Linked DNA regions of Homo sapiens: regions 1, 2 and 3 are each reported to be linked to region 4. The links are microRNA targets in miRTarBase. Many come from high-throughput screens and were not tested one by one. Region 4 holds a microRNA gene; each other region holds the end of a gene's coding sequence.

The links. The annotated mature microRNA hsa-miR-146a-3p reads CCUCUGAAAUUCAGUUCUUCAG and lies in region 4 at 2,904-2,925, shown strand. An mRNA with a match to its seed (bases 2 to 7 or 8) in the 3' UTR can be bound and repressed. Matches are read on the target gene's strand: a 7mer-m8 pairs with bases 2 to 8, a 7mer-A1 pairs with bases 2 to 7 and ends in A, and an 8mer does both.
Region 1: the mRNA of SLFN5 is a reported target of hsa-miR-146a-3p. Seed matches in the 3' UTR shown: 7mer-A1 at 4,052-4,058 and 7mer-m8 at 3,248-3,254.
Region 2: miRTarBase lists ZFP1 as a target of hsa-miR-146a-3p. Seed matches in the 3' UTR shown: 8mer at 1,482-1,489.
Region 3: the mRNA of MNT is a reported target of hsa-miR-146a-3p. Seed matches in the 3' UTR shown: 7mer-m8 at 2,151-2,157.

Annotation. Positions count from the first base shown.
Region 1 is chr17:35,265,043-35,270,193 of GRCh38, reverse strand. It overlaps SLFN5 (schlafen family member 5), which reads right to left. Exons shown (of 5, transcript NM_144975.4): 5 at 1-5,122. The coding sequence ends at 4,306. Among named protein-coding and RNA genes, the nearest start is that of SLFN5, 25 kb to the right of the region's middle.
Region 2 is chr16:75,169,822-75,174,972 of GRCh38, forward strand. It overlaps ZFP1 (ZFP1 zinc finger protein), which reads left to right. Exons shown (of 4, transcript NM_153688.4): 4 at 1-2,413. The coding sequence ends at 513. Among named protein-coding and RNA genes, the nearest start is that of ZFP1, 24 kb to the left of the region's middle.
Region 3 is chr17:2,382,391-2,387,520 of GRCh38, forward strand. MNT (MAX network transcriptional repressor) reads right to left here. Exons shown (of 6, transcript NM_020310.3): 6 at 1,683-5,130. The coding sequence ends at 4,511. Among named protein-coding and RNA genes, the nearest start is that of MNT, 16 kb to the right of the region's middle. RefSeq lists enhancers at 431-640, 3,593-4,417.
Region 4 is chr5:160,482,505-160,487,655 of GRCh38, forward strand. MIR146A (microRNA 146a) reads left to right here and starts at 2,848; the gene lies at 2,848-2,946. MIR3142HG (MIR3142 host gene) reads left to right here. Exons shown (of 2, transcript NR_132748.1): 2 at 2,795-4,922.

The sequences.
Region 1 (5,151 bases), not on the chromosome of region 4:
ATAATATTCCAGAAAGCTTTTAAAAATATATCAGAGAAAATATAAGAACAGCTAGATAGAATTATGTTAAATCGAAGGATATGATACATAATATTTTAAAATTATTTTTATGTTTATTTCACTTGAACAAAAGAAAAAGCAACTAATAAAATTGAAGGAAGAGCTGAACTACCGAATATTTTTCTTTAACTCAAGAACTTTCAGTTACAGGAAGATTTATCTAATATTAAAATGACTAAATTACAAAAAGCATAAAATGTTTGAAGCCATTTTTAAAGTTGTTTTGAAATCCATATTAGCACTCAGACTTCCCCACTCCCTAACTTTTGTTAATTGCTGTAATGGACATTTGTTGTTTTGATCTACCCAACATCCTTTCATCCTACTTTGGTAACTGATATTCTTTGGGGGAACTGATCTTTCCACTTTACATCATGTTTTGTGGAAATTTTTCAACTAAGGAACCTGCCCTATGCTAGCTAAGAGTTGAGTACGGTATGCAAACTAAATAAGTGCAACTCTCTCACTGTAATTTAACCTCCTTAAATCAAGTAAAGAAAATGACTGTGGCCAAGTCACCCCTGCTACCTAGGTCCTTGTAACTGCCCAGGCACCTCTCCCTTCTAAGGCCTATTTGGTCAGCTTGTCATTTTATTCTATCAGGTCCTCCCTAATGATTCCAATAAATTATTTTTGTTTGTTTTTTTAAAATGATCCAAACCCTGGTTTTATGGATTGAAACAGAAGAATCTATCTGATATAAAAATATTTTTACTTTGTGAAGGTTTGTAACATTCTTTTCTGTAATTATAATTCCTATATATCTTAATTATATACATGTGAATGGATTTAAACTTAACTTTGGTCCAATTATAATAATCTTTTATTTGTACATGTTGCTTGCTTAGCTAGATTTCCTTACTGAGTAACTTTTCTTCAAGAATGATTCATGGGTCCTGTATTTCTAGAACTCTTTTATGTTCAAAAATACCCATGTGCTGCCTTTGTACTAGAATAATATTTTGACTAGGTTTAATATTTTTAGGTCAAAATTTGTTTCCCTAAGAACTGTACACATGTTGCTTCACTGCCTTCTTAGATGCTTCTGGTCAAGATAGAGGAACAGGGACCATATTTATCCTCCCTCCTGAAACAATTGCAAAATAAGACAAAATATATGAAACAATTGCAAAATAAGGCAAAATATATGAAACAACAGGTCTCGAGATATTGGAAATCAGTCAATGAAGGATACTGATCCCTGATCACTGTCCTAATGCAGGATGTGGGAAACAGATGAGGTCACCTCTGTGACTGCCCCAGCTTACTGCCTGTAGAGAGTTTCTAGGCTGCAGTTCAGAGAGGGAGAAATTGGGTACAGTGGGACAGGCCTTCAACTCTTGTTTTATTGAATTTATGAACTTCTTAAATTCTTCTATGGCAGGAGACATCTATGGGGAGGCTTTGTTTGTTTTTTGAGACAGGGTCTCACTTTGTCGCCCAGGCTGAAGTACAATGGCCTGATCTTGGCTCACTGTAACCTCTGCCTCCTTGATTCAAGCAATTCTCTTGCCTCAGCCTTCTGAGTAGCTGGTATTACAGGCATGCACCACCACACCCAGCTAATTTTTGTATTTTTAGTAGAGACAGGATTTCACCACGTTGGCCAGGCTGGACTTGAACTCCTGACCTCAGGTGATCCACCTGCCTTGGCCTACCAAAATGCTGAGATTACAGGCGTGATCCACTGCGCCCAACTTATGGTGAGTTGTCTTTTGTCCCCTGAGTTATATATCCTTTCAGGATGGGTTCTTCATCTGGCTCATGTCATATTTCTTTTCTACATTTTTCCCCATTGTCTTTCGCCTAATGATCAGAACACTTATCTTTCTAATGCTTAATCAGGGCAGCTGGGTAGAGTCTTTCTTTTTACCTTAAGATAGTATAGAAGGGCTCTCTTTGACAACTTTCTTAGATGAAGTAGACTAGTTTGGCTTCTTCTCCAGTGTATAGCTGGAGGCCTGGGTGGTGTCTTCCATCTACTTTTGTGTAGCCTGATATGATCTGGTGTGAGATGAGGCCCTCGCTGTTAACCTGGTTTCTACTCTTTATTGTTGCCTAGGAACTTCCATTAAATCCACTGAATTCCATGAAGGAGGCAAAGCATCCAGGAATAAGACACAGCCCCCTTCATTGAATTCATGTGAAATCCTGGAAAATCCCTCCTGTGTCCACGGAGAGTCCCTGGGGACAATCAGGAGTTTCTGTGCTCAAGGGTCTCCCTGGCATTTCCCTGAGCTGCCTGCTCAATACCTCCGCCACCACCCTTCAAACTGGCCATATTAACAAGAATTCTGGTTTTCTTTTCTTTATGTGACATCTATTCATGACTACACTGGGCAGATGAGATAGTAGCTATGCCTTTATATAAAACTTTTAAATTCTTTTTTTTTGTTTTATTTATTTAATTTTTGGAGACAGGGTCTTGTTCTGTCACCCAGACTGGAGTGCACTGGTATGATCATAGCTCACTGTAACCTCAGACTTCTGAGGTCAAGTGATCGTCCTGCCTCAGCCTTCTGAGTAGCTAGGACTCCAGGTGTGCATCACCATTCCCAGCTAATTTTATTTATTTATTTATTTGTTTGTTTGTTTGTTTGTTTTTGTAGAGACAGGGTCTCACTATATTGCTCAAGCTGGTCTTGAACTCCTGGGCTCAAACAATCCTCCCACCTTGGCCTCCTAAAGTCCTGGGATCACAAGCATGAGCCACCATGCCCAACCTTTTCTAGTTTTTAAATTTTCATACATATCTATTAGATGTTTATAGTGTAAGGTTGAACTCCATTCTTTGCTTCTCTGTTGCTGGTAAATTTTTGGGTATATTTTTACTAATTTTGCACATTCTTTTACATATTGGTAAAGGAACAGTCTGTGATCTGGATTTATTCAGATCCTTATTCAGAATTACCAATTGTTTTATTAATCATTTTATCTTAAATGTGTCTCTACTTACTAGTGATTTGCAGTATATTCCAAGTTAGTTGTAAAAACATTTCACAATAGACTAATTTCTTGCTTTCCTGTGAAATTGTCTCAAATTTAAAAAGTAAAGTTCTTAATATTGTAAGTAGCTGCCAGAAATAAACCAATTCTAGCTTCAAGTTCATACTTCTTACAATGAGAATTTTAAATTTCTTTATTCTTGGGAAATAGCAGGGCCTTGCTGTTTTTAATAGTGAATTAACTCTGAATTTTTTAGTTTCTGTCTCTCAGAAAAGATGGATTTGTTTGGCTTTAAATATTGAGAGAGTTTCTAGAGACCCACAGGAAATGAGAAATTTGCACTTTTGTAGCAATGGCTTTTGAAAGACTAGCTAACATCCTGAAGACTCAGCAGAAGAAAGATATTAAACTGACTTTGTCGTTTTGTTGATTATTAAATTAAATGGAAAAACAAAATGTAACCTTTGAGTCCAATAGACTCATCCCCCTAGGCTCTCTATCATCTTCAAATCAATCAGTAAAACACAGTGTGCCTCCCTGGGGGACTGTGGCAGTCTTACCTTCATGTAGTAACCTAAGACGCTCCATAAGAATAAAAAATCAGAGCTAAGGAACAGATTCCACATAACCAAAAGGCTCACAAAAAGCATTTTAAAATATAGTGATCAAAAACACTAATGTCGTTAAAAGAAAAAGCAGAAAATAATAAAGTAATATAATGTGGTCTTGCAAAAAACAGTCTGTGATCTTACATTTCAAAACATGTCTTGCCCGTTCCCGGCACCTACAAGGCCAGATGAGCTACCTGCTCCATCCTTCACATTCTCGCTGCACGTCCCATTCAAGCTCTTCTGCAAGTGGCCATGTTAAAAATTTATAAAAATATCCGAGTCTGCCTGGCACGCTCAGAGATTCTCATGACAAGTTCTTCCCTCACTGAGCACTTCCCTGACCACCCAAAATAATCACCCCCTCCATCTACCTACACACATGTGCACGTGCGCGCGCGCACACACACACACACACACACACACACACACACACATCTCTGAGTCTCACGGTCCTCTAATTACTGATATCCCTTTTTACCATGGGAAATTCCTTGTCTATCTGTGTATTTGTCAGTGGTCTGTCTCTGCCCTAAAGGAGGAATCTTACATCGATTCGTTCTCAATCCCCAGCACCTAGAAAAGTATGTGACTTAATAAGTGAGTGTGTGCTTACATGTTTGGATTAAATGGTTTCACAGTTAATTAGAGATGAGAACCACTTAATTGTTTCTTAGGCTTGGGTTTCCTGTCACACAGAAGCCTTCAGAATATACAGATGTCTTTTTGCCCTAGAAGCCAAACAGAGCAGAAGATTGTAGGCCCCAGCCGGTGGGGCTACTCCTGGATTGATTCCAAACACGATATTTCTTTCCAGGCCTGAAAATCGACAGACACTGTCCAACACAATGTGATCGGTTAGAACATCCGACGCATCACCGATCTGTAGTAACAGATCAGACTCCTCATGGAGCTGAGACAGTTTTCTCTTCCTCATTGCTGTTAGAAGCCTGTCTTTATATTTTTCCACTTCACTTGCTTTGGTGAAAAGCACAGCAATATCCTTCGGAGAATAACCATTCCGCAAGAGAAAACGGCATTTATTCGCTACATAGATCAGTATCTCCTCCAAGTTCAAGTCTTCAATAATCTCTAAGTTGCCTGGGACACCTTGAGCCCATTTAGGTTCATAGAGCATCACCAGGGACCCAGGGGGGAGGTTAGGTGGAGGATTTTGTCGGGCTTCCTGCATTACTTGTTGTAGGTAATTAGCTATTGGACCTGCATTGCGGACCACTCTGTTGATCTCTTCTCTTGGATACTGGTCTGAGGGAGGGGGGAGGCCACTGCAACTCAAGTGATAGGTCTGAAAGTAGTCCAGAAAGATCCAGAGAACTCCTGGGCCATCCCTTGCTGTCTGAGTGATGAACTTTGCTTTCCCATACCAGTCCCCATCTTCAGTACGGAAATTCTGAGCGTCATCAATGATAATGTGCTGGATGTGTTCAAAGTTGTTTTTCATGAAGGTTTTCCGGGTCACTGGCTGGCAGATGTTTTTCTTGCTGAAACTGTAAGAAACAGAGTCAGGTTTTTCCCC
Region 2 (5,151 bases), not on the chromosome of region 4:
AAACCTTTCGAGTGTCCGGAATGTGGAAAAGCTTTCACCCACCAGTCAAACCTCATTGTACACCAGAGAGCACATATGGAGAAGAAGCCCTATGAGTGCAGTGAATGTGGAAAGACATTTGCCCAAAAGTTTGAACTCACCACACACCAGAGAATTCATACAGGAGAGCGACCCTATGAGTGTAACGAATGTGCAAAAACCTTCTTTAAGAAGTCAAACCTTATCATACATCAGAAGATTCACACGGGGGAGAAACGCTATGAGTGCAGTGAATGTGGAAAATCCTTTATCCAGAACTCACAGCTCATCATACACATGAGAACTCATACAGGAGAGAAACCCTATGAATGTACTGAGTGCGGCAAAACTTTCAGCCAGAGGTCAACTCTTAGATTACACTTGCGAATCCACACAGGAGAGAAACCATATGAGTGTTCCGAATGTGGGAAGGCCTTTAGCAGGAAGTCCCGACTCAGTGTCCATCAGAGAGTTCACATCGGGGAGAAACCCTGAAACTCCAGCCAGGTCTTACTGTGGAAAACTCCTGCCAGAACTCTTCAAGCGGGTGAAAAACCTCATGACAGTATTGAGGGAACATGGGAATTCATACTGAGATGCAATCTCTCAACTCAAAAATGTATTAAAAATAGGATCCCATGAGAACATTATACTGGAAGTTACATGTGATACCCAGCTAAAGAATACATATCAGAATATATCCAGTTGTAAATAGCCATACCCAGTTGTACTACAATGAGCTTTTTAAAATCTTGAATGAATTGAGTATTCTAGACAGCAGCATAAGAAATATACAAACAGTATCCTATGAATTTAGTGGTTTTATGTGGATATGCCACAAAACACAAGTGGTATGCTTTAGATCTGCACATGTGAATTTAGCATAATCACTGGGAATTTGAAATTCTTGTCCTCTGTGATAATTAGGACATAACAAGATTTTCCATACTAAACATCACATGTGTTTTTCAGTATCTCTGCAATCCAGTATGCATTCCAAATGAAATGTGTAACATTTAAAGTAGCATGGAACCTACGTCTTTCCCTACTGCTTGCTGGCATATATCAGTTGGTATGAACATTGTTCTTGAGCTGCCTCTTAGGAAACAGAAGACAGTGTTGAAGTTTTCCCTGCTTCTGGTTTGCTGAAGATTTTCTAGAAGCACTATTTACACAAATATGCAAATGTGAAATAACCGATCTATAACGTGAAGGAGGCAGACATGAGCTGTACTACTCAGTATGCACCACAGAATAAGAGTTTGCCGTGTAAAGACAATATCCCCATTCGTCATGCTCTTATTTTCCCGTGGGATATTTGCATACAAATGCATGTCTGTTACCAAAATATTGTGTAACACAGACAGAAACCACCTGTTTTTGTCTTTCCTTGTTTCCCTTAATATTTCATGAATTGTCTAGCAAAAATGGTAGGATGCTTCTGTAGTTCACAAATGTTACATTTCAGAGACTTTAGAGGAAAAATTATTTTAAATAACTGTCAACTGTTTCATTGCTTTTTAAATTTTTCACGTGCATAACCCCCTTTAGAAGTAAATTTTTACACTATTTTGTTGTTTAAAGGAGGCATTTCTACTTCCTTGAGTTTTGCTGTTGCCAACCTAAAACATTTCCCTTTGGAACATGAGTTATAAGTTATTACTTTTCCTTTACATGTTTACACTTTTATAAAAATCAGATTTTTCAGTGGTCTCTCCAGATATTAACAAGAATTGTTGTGTAACTCAAAGATTTGCTTTTATAGACTTGATTTCAAATTCTTAAGTTCAGCCTTTCCCTATCAATCACAAATCATGTATTGGAAATTATAAATGGCAACCAAAAACTGGCTTTTAAAAAATATTTTTGGATATCATTGATGTGCTGTCACACTATATATTGAGTGACTTTCTGAACAAATTTATCCAGAACATCCATAGCCCAATAAGCTTTTGTCTAAGTTGTCATCTTACTTACTCACAAAGGAGGGGAAAACGTTATTTTCATAGCTGCTTTTAGAAATGTAAATTGTAACAGCCTCCTTGGACAACATTGTGAGTCTGTTTTAACATTAATATACTCTTACAACCTAGGAATCTCCTGGGAATCTATCCCTAAGGAATAAAAAGCGCCAGCACTTAAGATTATATGTTTACTAATGTATATTGTATTTTTTGGTAAGGACCAAAAAAACAAACAAAAAAAAGACCATCAGTAAGGGAATGGATGAATAAATTGTGGTAAAAACATACCATGGCTGAATGGTATTTCCTTGAAAAGAATGTGTGGGAACAAACTCCAAACTTCTCTAGGTCAAATGAGGAAAGCAAGAGGGGAGAGAGAGAGTGTATGTGTGTGTGTAGCAGTTTTTATAAAATAAAGATAAACCCTTATATATGTGTGTCTTTGTATATGATTTTATGGGCCTGGTGAATAGAATTCCTTCCATTTTTAACCTGTGGACCTCACCAGCTTTATCAGTGAGGGCTTTAGCAGTAAACTGAATTAGCGCCTTATGAAAGGATGACTTGGAGAATGAGAGAAGGATTAAGGGAACAAACAACGGATGGTAAGGAATCCAGAGACCAGCAGTGCCAAGAAGCTGTTGTCTCCCTAGGGACCAAAGGAAGAAATGGTGTTTCAGAGCCCAGTGAGAGCCAAAATGTTGGAAGGTCTCTTTCCTGTAGGAGATAGAAAAATAAAAAGGAAGAGTGTCTCTTAAGTGGATGTTGAAGCTCTACAAAGATGCAGCTACTGTGAGAAACACAGAACTGTCAGGAAAGGGAGCAGAGGGGGAAAAGCCTCAGCTCTTTATTGCTGTCTCCTGAAGATGCCTCCATCAACTGAACCTAATCAGAAGCCCGGGTGATGCCGTCCTCCTGGGATAAAGCAGGGTAGAAAGATGGAGGATGGACCAGGAGGGGAAACAGCACAATCAGCAAATCTCCCATCTCAGTTTCAGCCTTGCTGGTCCGACTGTAATGAGGCTTTCCCAGAAGGACCCTTCTTCCCCTATGGTCATTCCAAGTGGCAACTGTTTGTCTCATGCCTCTTATGCGTTTAGAGGTAAGATGACTGACTCTGAAGCCCAATTTCAGAGGAAATAAAAATTTGGGAGTTGTCACAGGGATAATATTTTAAGCCATAAAGCTAGGTGAGATTACCTAGGAAAAAAAAGTATAAAGAATGTCAAGGACTGAGCCCCGAGCACTCACCCCAGTGTTTGCTGGGCAGGAACTGGCAAATGAAACTGAGAAGGAACCACCAGGGTTAGGGTGAAAACCAGTAGAGGGTGGTATCTGAAGCCAGCTGAAAACACTTATTTTGAAGTAGAAGAGTGGCCACTATATCAAATACTAATAATTTGTATGAAGTTGGATATATGCTGAGATTAACCATCAGTGAGGTCATTTTGAAAAAAACAGTTATAAAGGAGTGGTCAGGGTAAATCTAGGAGGATTCAAGATAAACTTGGAAACAGGAGCTGTGAATAAGGGGCCAAGTGTTAAGGACTGAAAAGTCTGAGATTTTGTCCTACTTGCAAGGTAACAAGTTAAGCTACCAGTTTCATGGATACTGGCAGAAGACATACTGTACTGACCTCGAATACACATTTGCTGGGTGGAGTTACAGGAGGGGAGGTCCAAGTTTAGGGAGCCTGAATCTTAAACAGTGGTCTAGAAGTAAATCTATCAAACCTTTGTCTAGAAGGAAGACATATTATACTGGATGCTAAACAAACTGTTGCTCTGGAGAACGGATTACCTATCTAAGGCTATTCATCCTGAAAACAGCCTGTAACAAAAGCCATCACCATATGTACTTGTAAGATAGTGAGAAACGTGAGAAACCCATGGAGAATTGTCTCCCAACACAGAGAAACGGATGGGTAACTGAAGAGATGGGGGCTTTTGAGGATTTTGGTGTTTTAAAATATTAGAAATTCTAGGATAAATTTATATACTCATGGGAACGATAAGTAGAAAAATTGACGCTGTACGAGAAGAGGAGGAGGAGAATGGACTAGAGCAGAGCCTGAGCAGGTGAAGACACTGGGATCCAGGGTACTAGTGAAGAGGTCAGACGCTGGAGCACCAACCAGGAGGAAGGCAGAGCGTGGGCAGAGAAGATGCTAGAGCTTGTGAGTGTTCTTGTCTGATTGCTTTTATTTCCACTGTTAAACTGAAAACATAGTTATTAGCTGAGAGTGAGGATGGTAGAGGTGGTGTGAGACGTTTGGGGGATAGGGAAGAGTGAAAAAATTAAGGAAATGTACGATACACTAAAGGCCCACTTGAGGTTAGTGGTCATGAGTTTAACATAACATCAATTGTCAGGGTTGTATGTTTTGTTCCAGCCACATTCAGCAGAGTTGGATTTAGCCTGGATTGACTGGTGTGAAATACATGAACCATGGGACTTAAGCTGATTAGGTGAAGAGTCACAACTTCAGAGAGGGAAATCAGCGGGAGTGGTTTCAGCAAGATGGCAGAATAGAACTTTCTAGCACTTGACTCCCTGCAGAAACATCAGTTTGAATAGCTTTCCATGCACAAAATTACCTTCACAAGAGCTAAAGAAACCAAGTAAGAGATCACAGCACCTGGGTATAGTGTAGAAATAAAGGATGCGGCCGGGCGCAGTGGCTCACGCCTATAATCCCAGCACTTTGGCAGGCCAAGGTGGGTGGGTCACCTGAGGTCAGGAATTTGAGACCAGCCTGGCCAACATGGCAAAACCCCGTCTCTACTAAAAATACAAAAATTAGCCGGGCATGGTGGTGCGTGCCTGTAATCCCGCCTACTAGGGGGGCTGAGGTAGGAGGATCGCTTGAACCTGGGAGGCTGAGGTTGCAGTGAGCTTAGATTGTGCCACTGCACTTCAGCCTGGGCAACAGAGCGAGACTCCATCTCAAAAAAAAAAAAAAAAAAAGGATGCATTGAAGAGGGCACGAAGGACAGTGTTACATTATTTTTATTACCTCTTCCCCAACCCCAGGCACCATAGTGTCAACAGAGACACCCTCCATACAGGGGAAAGAGAAGAAAGTGAACACTGGACTTTGCCTCCATCCCAAACACCTTCTCACCTGGGTAAAACTCAGAGCTAGGCAGGCCCCACTGCCCTAGACCC
Region 3 (5,130 bases), not on the chromosome of region 4:
CTTTGCAATCTGGAAAGTCAGGTCTTCCTCTTACAGAGCAGGAGCTGGTAAATGGAAGCACCTGGATTCATACTTTATCCTGACCACAGGCCCCTTTCTTATAAGCTCCAGCTGAGCCATGGGTGAGTGAGAACTGTGGGTGAGGGGGAGCTTTGAGTACAGCTTCTGCCTAAAGATTTAGTGACAGCCCTCAGATGACAGCCAAGTTATCACTGCCTGGGGAGGGTCTTCATCTGTGTTCCCAGTGGGCACAGGGCCTGGCACTGAGCATGCACCCAGGAAGGGTTAACCCTCACCCTATCCCTTCCCTAAAGCGTCGCTTAGTGAGCTAATGGAAGTGACCCAGCTCTTCCAGGAGCTACCAGCAGAGGGAGCCCGCGTCTCACAAGTAAAAAGGGCAGGCTCAGTAGGGAGGGCTGGATTCCGAACTTTCATTTTAATTAAAAAAATTTTTTTTGAGACAGAGTCTCGCTCTGTCTCCCAGGCTGGAGTGCAGTGGCGCAATCTCGGCTCACTGCAGCCTCCACCCCCCGGGTTCAAGTGATTCTCCTGCCTCAGCCTCCTGAGTAGCTGGGATCATAGGCATGCACCACCATGCCCGGCTCATTTTTGTATTTTTAGTAGAGAAGGGTTTTTGCCATGTTGGCCAGGCTGGTCTCGAACTCCAGACCTCAGGTGATCTGCCCACCTAAGCCTCCCGAAGTGCTGGGATTACAGGCGTGTGCCACCGTGCCCGGCCTGAACTTTTTGAAGTCAACTCTTCTCTTTCAGAAAACAGGACCCAAGACAGCACTCCCTTCCTCAAGGATAACCCCTACCCACCCCACCTCAGGAAGAGACGCAGAGTCAGTCTCCCCTGTGGGGACTGGGAGTCAGTCAGGTACTGTCAGGGTGGAAATGAGAAGCTGGGCCCCCTTGCCCAGCCTGGTCTCCAGCAAGGCCTAGCTAGTGGCTCCCTGACCTCACTTCCCACACCACCTCCTCCCATGACAGCCTGCCCAGGGAGAGAAGACACAGCCACAGGGACAAGGGGCTTCCAGCCCAGCTGAGAACACGGCTCTTTGCCCCTGACCTCCAGCCTCTTCTTCCCCTTGTTCCTTTCCCTTAGAGGACAGCTTTATGGACTCCCCGGCTGACCTGTTGTAACTGCACCCCCAGAGCAGCCCCTCAGGAAGCTCTCACCCTCTGTGCCCAATCCCTGGGGCAACTCCCCTGTACCTTTTTTATTGGATCCGAGTCTAGGACTGGCCCCAGGTGCCACAAGGGTGGCAGATGCTGGGTAAGAACTCTGTACCCAGTTCAGAGGTCTGACTGCAGCTCCAACGAAGTCTCCAGCTAGCCGTGTGGCCTCAACAAGTCACTGGGCCACCTCAATCCTGTTTCCTTATCTGCCAAAATGGGGCTAAGTCTGGCTTATTTACTTCACTTGGCTGTTGAAAGATGAAACAAGATAATGCTTGTAAAATGGTCTGAGGAAATACGAAGCTTTGCAAAAGTTTCAGACCGACCAGAACTGCCATTTTCAGAGCGGCGGAGGCACCGGGTCAGAGCCGCTTGAGGACTATGCTGGGCAGACAGGGTCGAGACAGGTGATCTCACCGCTCCTGCCACATGCTTCCCTACAGGCCTCAGCCTCCTTTTGCAATAAAATGACCCAGATGCTGCAGGCTGGCAGCTCCATCTCAGGTTTCAGTGCAGGTTTATTTCAGTTTTATATTTTATTCCAGGCAAGTGCTTATTACATGGATAGTATTCATGTCTCGGTAACTAAAGTCTTGGAGCATGAACAGCCACTAGAATACAGTTCAATAGTAAAAATACAGTATGTACAAAATTAGGGTTTTTGTAGTTTTTTTTTTTTTCCACACAGCAGATGTATCCAAACACATAAAAATCTCTACAGTCTGGGGTCGCTACAGTTTATATTTCAGGAAACAGAGACACAGTGGCCGAGTCCTCACTGTAAACAAGGGCCACCTCTGGGGGTTGGGGGTGGGACCCTGGGATGGGGGGAGAAGCAGCTGTTTCTGGAGAGAGAAGGGGTCATGGTGGCCCCCCAGTTACCCTCCAGGCATTCCCTGCCTTCTTTGGCCCCCCAAGGAACCAACCTCCCCCTCTCCCCGAGGTAAGGACTCCCAGCCAGTGAGCCACTCTGAACATCAAAAGGTAAAACACGCATGAGAGGTAAGATGTGTGCGTGTGCGTGCGTGTGTGTGTGTGTGTGTGTGTGTGTGTGTCCCAGGCTGGAAGGGCTAGGGAGGGAGGGCCAGGCGGTCCCACAGGGTGAGGACAGATGTGGTCCCGACAGCACTCTGGGGGAGACGCCCAAGGAAGGGCTGGGTGGTGACTGCCCACTTGGGCACACAGCATCACAGCGTTCACAAACGACAAGAAAAACAGCAACACCCATCGTCACCAATCTGGACATAGTCATTCGGCACTAGATTTGCAGGCCCCCGATGCTGGGGGACAGGGACGGGGAGGGGCAGCGGGTGGATGATGAGGTATCTGTGCAGGCCCGGGGGCCACTGGCCTCAGGATGCAGGGAGAGGTGGGCAGGCTGAGGGGAGGGGCGAGCTCCACGAGGCTGCTCTAACTGCCCCGTGGGTCAGGCCTGCCATCGCTGTCACAATGGGAATAGCAAAGCTGGCTCTCCCAGAGCCACGGGGTCTGGCGGAGGTGGCTGTGCTGGGGTGGGTACAGGGCTCAGCCTCTGAGGATGGTGACCTGGTTTGTAACTGTCCCTTTACCCACACCAGGAGAGAGAAATAAGGAACAGTCCCCTGGGAGGTGTCCAGGACCAGGAGGGAACAGGAAGGGAATTTTTAGGCATCTAAGGATTCTTTATTTCCAGAGAAAATCTATTCAAGACCTTTGCTGACCTCCTCTGTGCCTGCAGGGCACTCCAGGAAATCCTCAGCTCTGTCCCCTCCCCCCGGCCCCCTCGCCGGCCCAGGCCCCTGCCCCAGCCCATCAGTGTGAGCTTCACATCCAGGGACACCGGCTTCCTCCCGCTACACTGAAAGGCCACTGGTGAGTGTGTGTCCAGGTGGGGAGCCGAGCGTGTCTGACACAAAGCCACTTGTAATAAACACCCACATACAAGGAAAGGCCAAAGCAGGCTGCCCAGAGGCAGAGAAAGCCGCATCCTAACACAGAGCCCCTGACTCCTCCCCCTTCCACGCTCAGCCCTGTCCTTGACCCAACCAAGGACCTCTTCTCAGAGAAAGGTGCTGCTGCTCTGCAGCTCCCCGGGCAGGGCCCACTCAAAAGCGTCCCCGGGAGAAGCAGGGTGTTGAGGGGATGGGAGGACAGAGGCAAAGGGGCTGGAGCAGAAGCAGCAGCCCTAGCTCTGGCCCTCTGTTCTGTATAGGTCCCAGGGTTGGTCTGGGGACAGGCTTAGGGCTTGGCTAAGCCGCTGGGTTTTTACCTTCCTGATGTCTCAACGATGTGGCTTCTATGCTCCTGGAAACAAGACCAGATGCTGGTCCATGTCTCCCAAACTGCAGGAGGCACCCAAACCCACAGGCCGCCAGGCCCACCTGTCCCTTGGAGCAGTGCCCAGCACTCAGCAGAGGTCAGAGATCAGGGGCTGAACGCAGGACAGCGCCCCTCTTTGCTGCCTTCTGGAAGCCAAGAGCCAAGCCCAGGGCTGGGGACTGGGGACTGGGGACAGGGGCCCAGTGGCTCTCCTCCCATCCAGACCCAGGCTGCAGGGGACGGGGAAGGGGAAGGACAGCCAAGTCCCTCCTTCCCCACCTCAGCCTGCCCTCCTGAGGTCCAGAGCCCAGTGGCAGGGATTGGGGTGAGGGCACAGGAAGCTTGGCAGTGGCTGGGTTTGGTTTATTGTTGGTAGAGAATCATTTTAAGTAGTATCTACGGTAACGAATCACAGTGACTGCAACCGGGTCAGAGAGCCCCAGGCTGAGGCCCCACCTGTCCGGGTGGGACTCCAGACCAGCCACTTCCTATGATCTGTCACCTGTGCTCAGAGCAAGGCCCCTTATCACCCCAATCCGCAGCTTTCTGGGCCAAGTGGCTTCAGTTCTGCTTTCCCCATTTCCCCTCCAAAGGCCTGGGAAGAGAACATGAGGCTCCGGAGGAAAGCCGGGGGCCTGGGCCACCTCACCAGACAGCAATAGCAGCAGCAGCACACGAAGGCGGGGCAGGGCGGGGGAGAAGTCAGGGAGCGTGACGTCCACATCGCACTGATTTCCGAGGGTAGGGAGGGGAAGCAGGAGCGGCACTGGAGCTGGCACTGGGCCGGACAGGTGGCACATTCCATCAGAGTCTCGCATTTTCTCAGAGTCATCTTACCAAGTCCTAGTGCAGCAGGGTGGCCCTTCCCTCCCTTGGCTCAGAGTCTTTGCACCCCCTTCCCCTAGGAGGCCTGGGGGTGGGTGGGGGGGCTGGCCTGGGCCTGGCTGGAATGTGTGGAGCTGGTGGGTGAGAGAGTGGGGGACAGGTCCCCCTCCCTGTCCCCACTGGGGGCCTCTGAGTGGCCTCGTCCTCAAGCCAGCTTGAGTGTGCTGACTGGGAAGGAGGGCATGGTGACCATGGTCACAGGGTTGAGCACGGTCTGGCCCACCAGCTGGGGGTGGTGCACCACCTGAGCCCCCACGGCCGGCTTTGCCATGACAGTAGCCGGGGGCCCCAGGCCGGCCGTGCCGTTGACTTGCTGGTGCGAGAGGGTGTGGGCGATGTGGCTCACTGCCACGGGCTGCGGGTACAAGGGCAGCTGGGAGCCCAGGTGGGCCACATGGTTGAGGGTGGCAGGGTGCACAGTGATGTGCCCAATGGGGGGTGTGGCAGGCGCCAGTTGCACCGCAGGGCTGGGGGCCGAGGGGGCGATGTGGGCGATGTGCTTGCCGCCTGGCCCCTGCAGAACGTGGTTCACAGTCTGGATGACTGAAGCGTGAGTGGTGGCTGTGTGGGCGATGACCGTGGAGCCACCCCCAGCCGTCGCCACCAGATGGGCTGGAGCTGGCACCAGTGTCTGGGCAGGGGCAGCCGGTGGGGGAGGAGGGGCTGGCAGAGGGGTCTTCTGCTGTGGCTGCTGCTGCTGCACGGGGAGGTGGGCAGGAGGTAGGGCCACGGAGTGGGGGTGAGGGTGTGGGTGTGGAGGCAGAG
Region 4 (5,151 bases):
TTAGCCATCAGGGAAATGCAAATCAAAACCGTAGTGAGATACCACTTCACACCTACTAGGATAACTATACTCAAAAGATAGACATTAACAAGTATTGGCAAGATGTGGAGAAACTGGAACCCTCATACACTGCTGGTGGAATTGTAAAATAGTGTGGCCGCTTTGGAAAACAGTCTGGCCATTCATCAACTGATAGCCATAGAGTTAACATATGACACAGAAATTCCACACTTAGGTATACGTCTGTGAAAGGAAAATAGATCTCAGAACTCCCAAAATCACTAAGCCAAAGGGAAGTCAAACTGGGAACTGTGTGAGGCAAACCTGCCTCCCATTTTATTCCTACGTAAGCTAGCTACAAAGATAAAAAAGCTACATACCTCCCTCACAATTTGCCCACTAGGAAATTCCTTGTGGACAAAGGACAGACAGAATTCAGTCATTCTTTTGCTCATGTGAGACCAATGCATATCTGATTGCTTCTTCTGCCCTATTATTTCACTAAGCCAGACTAAGGAATAAGTGACTATTCCTCTACCCTCCTCTCACATGTAAATTGTGTATTCAGTAAAAGGCTAACCAGAGACAAAAAAATGCAACAGTTTGTCTTGTATCTACCTATGATCTGGAAGCCCCCACCCCTGCTTCTAGTTGTCCCAGCTCTCCAGACTGAACCAATGTACATCTTACATATACTGATTGATGTCTCATGTTTCCCTATAATGTATAAAACCAAGCTGTGCCCCGACCACCTTGGGCACAATGTTGTCAGGACCTTCTGAGGCTGTGTGACAGGCATGTTCTTAACCTTGGCAAAATAAACTTCCTAAATGGATTCAGGTCTGTCTCAGATACTTTTGGGTTCACACATCCATGAGAAATGCAAACATATGTCCATACAAAACTTGTACATGGGTATTCATTCATAGAAGCATCAAATAGGCAAAAGGTAGCAACAACCCAAATGCCCATCAGCTGATGAATGGATAAATGAAATGTGGTAGATCCTAACGATGGAATATTATTCATCCATAGGAAGGATGTACTGATACGCATTAAAACATGGATATATCCTGAAAGCTAAGTGAAAGAAGCCAGTCACAAAAGGCCGCTGATTATATGATTTCATTTATATAAGATGTCCAGCATATATATAGACAGAACGTAGATCAGTGATTCCCCAGGGGTGAGGGAGGGGAATGGAGATTGACTGTTAATGGTTATGGGATCTATTTTGGGGATGATGAAAATGTTCTGGAATTGATTATGATGGTTGTACAACTCTGCAAAATACTAAAAACCAATGCATTTTTTACTTTAAATAGGTAAATTTTCTGGTGTGTGAGCTATATAGCTATAGCTCAATAAGGCTATTATATACTTATTTTATTTTATTATTATTTTTTAGAGACAGAGTCTCGCTTTGTCACCCAGCCTGGAGTGCAGTTGTGCAATCTTAGCTCACTGCAACCTCTGCCTCCTGGGTTCAAGTGATTCTTCTGCCTCAGCCTCCCAAGTAGCTGGGACTACAGGTGTGCGCCACCATGCCTGGCGAATTTTTGTATTTTTGTTAGAGACGGGGTTTCACCATGTTAGCCAAGTGAAACTTGAACTCCTGACCTCAGGTGATCTGCCTGCCTCAGCCTCCCAAAGTTCCGAGATTACAGGTGTGAGTCACCACATCTCGCCTATATACATATTTAAAAAACACTAGCATGGTCTCTATGCTTATGGAAAACAGTCTTGTTGGAGAGATAATTTTAATCAAATAATTATACAAAATTATCTAACAATTACAAATTACGGTGAAGGAAAGAATCCCATATTATGAAAGAGACTAGCTGGAGGCTGATGGTGAGGGAGTGGTAGGTAAACATTCAAGTGCTCTTACAGAGATCCCCAAGTAACAGTGGCTTAAATAAGGTAAATGTTCCATTCTTGCTGATCTATCAGTGCAGGTGTAAGCAGTCTAGGGTGTATAAGGAAGCCTCACACTTTTGGGGCTCTTCTGGCATGCTGCTCTGCTGTTCCCTGGGGGGCTGCACTCATTTGCATGGTCCACAGTGGCTCTCTACCATGTCTACAGTCCAAGCCTGAGAAGAGGGAGGGAAACAGTAAAAAACTCTCCACTCCTGCTCATATCCAGCACTTTGTCACACCAGGTGAGGAAACAAAGTCAGATGTCCATGTGTTCAGATACCACTTAAGGGTTCTATTAGTATAGAAGGAGGAGAGAATATATATTGGGCAAACAATCAGCAATCTCTGCCATAGATGGCCTCTCTGAGGAAGTGACATTGAAAGCAAGAACATCAGGATAAGTTGATGTTAAAGAGAGGAACGAGTTTTCCAGGCCAGAGGGATGGCATATGGAAGGGTCATGAGGCAGGAAAGGCCAGCTACCATGTTTAATGATGCTTAATGATGTGTGTGTCTACCATACACATCCCCTACAGATTAGTTTTTGTTTTGACAGGGTCTCTCTCTGTGGCCCAGACTGGAGTGCAGTGGTGCAATCATAGCTCACTGCAACCTCCAATTCCCAGGCTCAAGCGATCCTCCCACCACAGGCCATCATGCATGGCTCATTTTTTATTTTTAGTAGAGACAAATTCTCCATGTTGCCCAGGCTAGTCCTGAACTCCTGGGCTCAAGAGATCCACCCACATCAGCCTTCCAGACTGCTGGCCTGGTCTCCTCCAGATGTTTATAACTCATGAGTGCCAGGACTAGACCTGGTACTAGGAAGCAGCTGCATTGGATTTACCAGGCTTTTCACTCTTGTATTTTACAGGGCTGGGACAGGCCTGGACTGCAAGGAGGGGTCTTTGCACCATCTCTGAAAAGCCGATGTGTATCCTCAGCTTTGAGAACTGAATTCCATGGGTTGTGTCAGTGTCAGACCTCTGAAATTCAGTTCTTCAGCTGGGATATCTCTGTCATCGTGGGCTTGAGGACCTGGAGAGAGTAGATCCTGAAGAACTTTTTCAGTCTGCTGAAGAGCTTGGAAGACTGGAGACAGAAGGCAGAGTCTCAGGCTCTGAAGGTATAAGGAGTGTGAGTTCCTGTGAGAAACACTCATTTGATTGTGAAAAGACTTGAATTCTATGCTAAGCAGGGTTCCAAGTAGCTAAATGAATGATCTCAGCAAGTCTCTCTTGCTGCTGCTGCTACTCGTTTACATTTATTGATTACTTACGATGATTCAGGTACTGTTGTAAGTGCTTTACATGCTGTTATACGAGACTCTTGGGAGAAATCACTTTAATGAAGCTTGAGACACATGGCATTGCCATGCAATGATTTTTCCCCCCTCTTCACGGGATCAGAGGGAACTAATAGAATGTGACAATGATTCTTTAGCAGGGACTGCTGAGGCTTCTGGTTCCTTTTTAAGATCTGCAGTGAAAGAAGATGAGAAACATGGATATGCCCTTCTTTTGGTCCCCCTCTTCCTTTATTTGATCTCTACTTCCTTCTATAAATATATTAGGGCTACATTGTCCCTTTGTATTTCAAACAAGGCAAAAAGAGGTTGTAATTACACTTTACTGCAATCCTCAGTTTCTCCAGGGAACAGGAATGCAAAGGCTTTGAAGGCCTCTCTATTTGCTGACATGGTCAGCTGGGTGCCATGGGCCAAGTCCTTCTGTTGCCCTCCTCTGTCACCAAGTAAGCTAGGTCCTTTCTGAGGCTCAGGTTTGCTGTGATGATGATCACTTTTAGGCAGAAGGTTAGAGGCCTCATGAGTGCTATATGGACTTTATTAGGCTTTAGATTTGATGGGGAATAAGGGATGTGATTTGTCTTTTGGGAACTCATCTTTGATTCATCATTGTCTCTTGGTATCTTGGAATTTCCATGTCATTACAGTCTACAGAATGAAAGAGTAACCTGTCCCAGAGGAGAGGCAGGTGAAAGACTCCACAGCATGCTCATTCTCATTCTGTCTTCTCAGTGACACCGAGGTTTACTGAGTGCCCACTATGTGCCAAGCACTGTGCTCAGGGCTTTCTTTGTATGCATGATCTCAGTGAATCTCACCAAGCCTCATCTGGAAAACGGGGACAAATTAACAACAGGATGGCAAATTGAAAAACACGTAACCATGTTCTACAGATGGAAAGGGGTGCTTGGTTATTATGAAGGCCCCCTCGCAAGCGTGTGGGACATGGGTGTGTTCTCTGGGTTGTACTGATCAGATCAAGGACCTCCCCCACCCTTCTCACACTCTGCCCACTTCCGCCCTTTGCTTATCAGACCCTTAGCCAGTGACTCATTCCAGAACCAGAACCTTGGTGAAATCTCAACCGACACCAGAGATCGGTGTCTTCAGTCCTAGACTGATGGAGAAAATCCAGAATATATACTAGAAGCTCCAAATGCTCTGGGTTTCAGCTCCTCTGTGCTGTGGACACTGACTTTGGCTCAGAACTCCGATTTAGTACAAAAGGCTCATTTTTATTTCAGGGGCACTCTTCCTAAAGCAAACCTAATAAATGAAATATGGAATTCACAGATACACACACACATTAAAAAATTAACCTAGTGTATCTGTGAGGAGTAGGCAGAAATTCACTGTATAAAAGAATGCTTCATTTCATAGAGAATTTGTGTTAAGATTCCATTAGATAGTACATTTCTCAAAGATTTTTGAGGTTGTATTTGCTTTACCAAAACTTGGTTTATGTAAGTGGAAAAAGCATGTTGCAAAATAACTTGGTGTCTATGATTCAGTTTATGTAAAATAATAAATGTATGTAGGAATACGTGTGTTGAAAGATGTACATCAATTTGCTAACAATGGTTATCTCTGACGTGGTGGGATTTGAGATGTGTTTTTCTTTTTGGTTGTATTTTTCTCTATTGTTTGACTTAACACAGAACATGTTTGGTTACAACAATAAAGTTATTGAAGACAATATAACACCCAATTGTGATGAGTCCAGACAGTACTCATGCTGTGCATTTATTAGACAGTATGCCATAGAGGTGGGTCATGGAGGAGTGGAGAGAGAGCCCTGATTTGTTGTCCCATGAAGAAGATAGGCACAGGGTAATATGTAGTGTGATTCTTTTTTTTTTTGCACGAGGAGAAGTGTGTGTGTATCCGTGTAAGTGTATGGATATCCAGTGGGTAGTGGGTGTTAA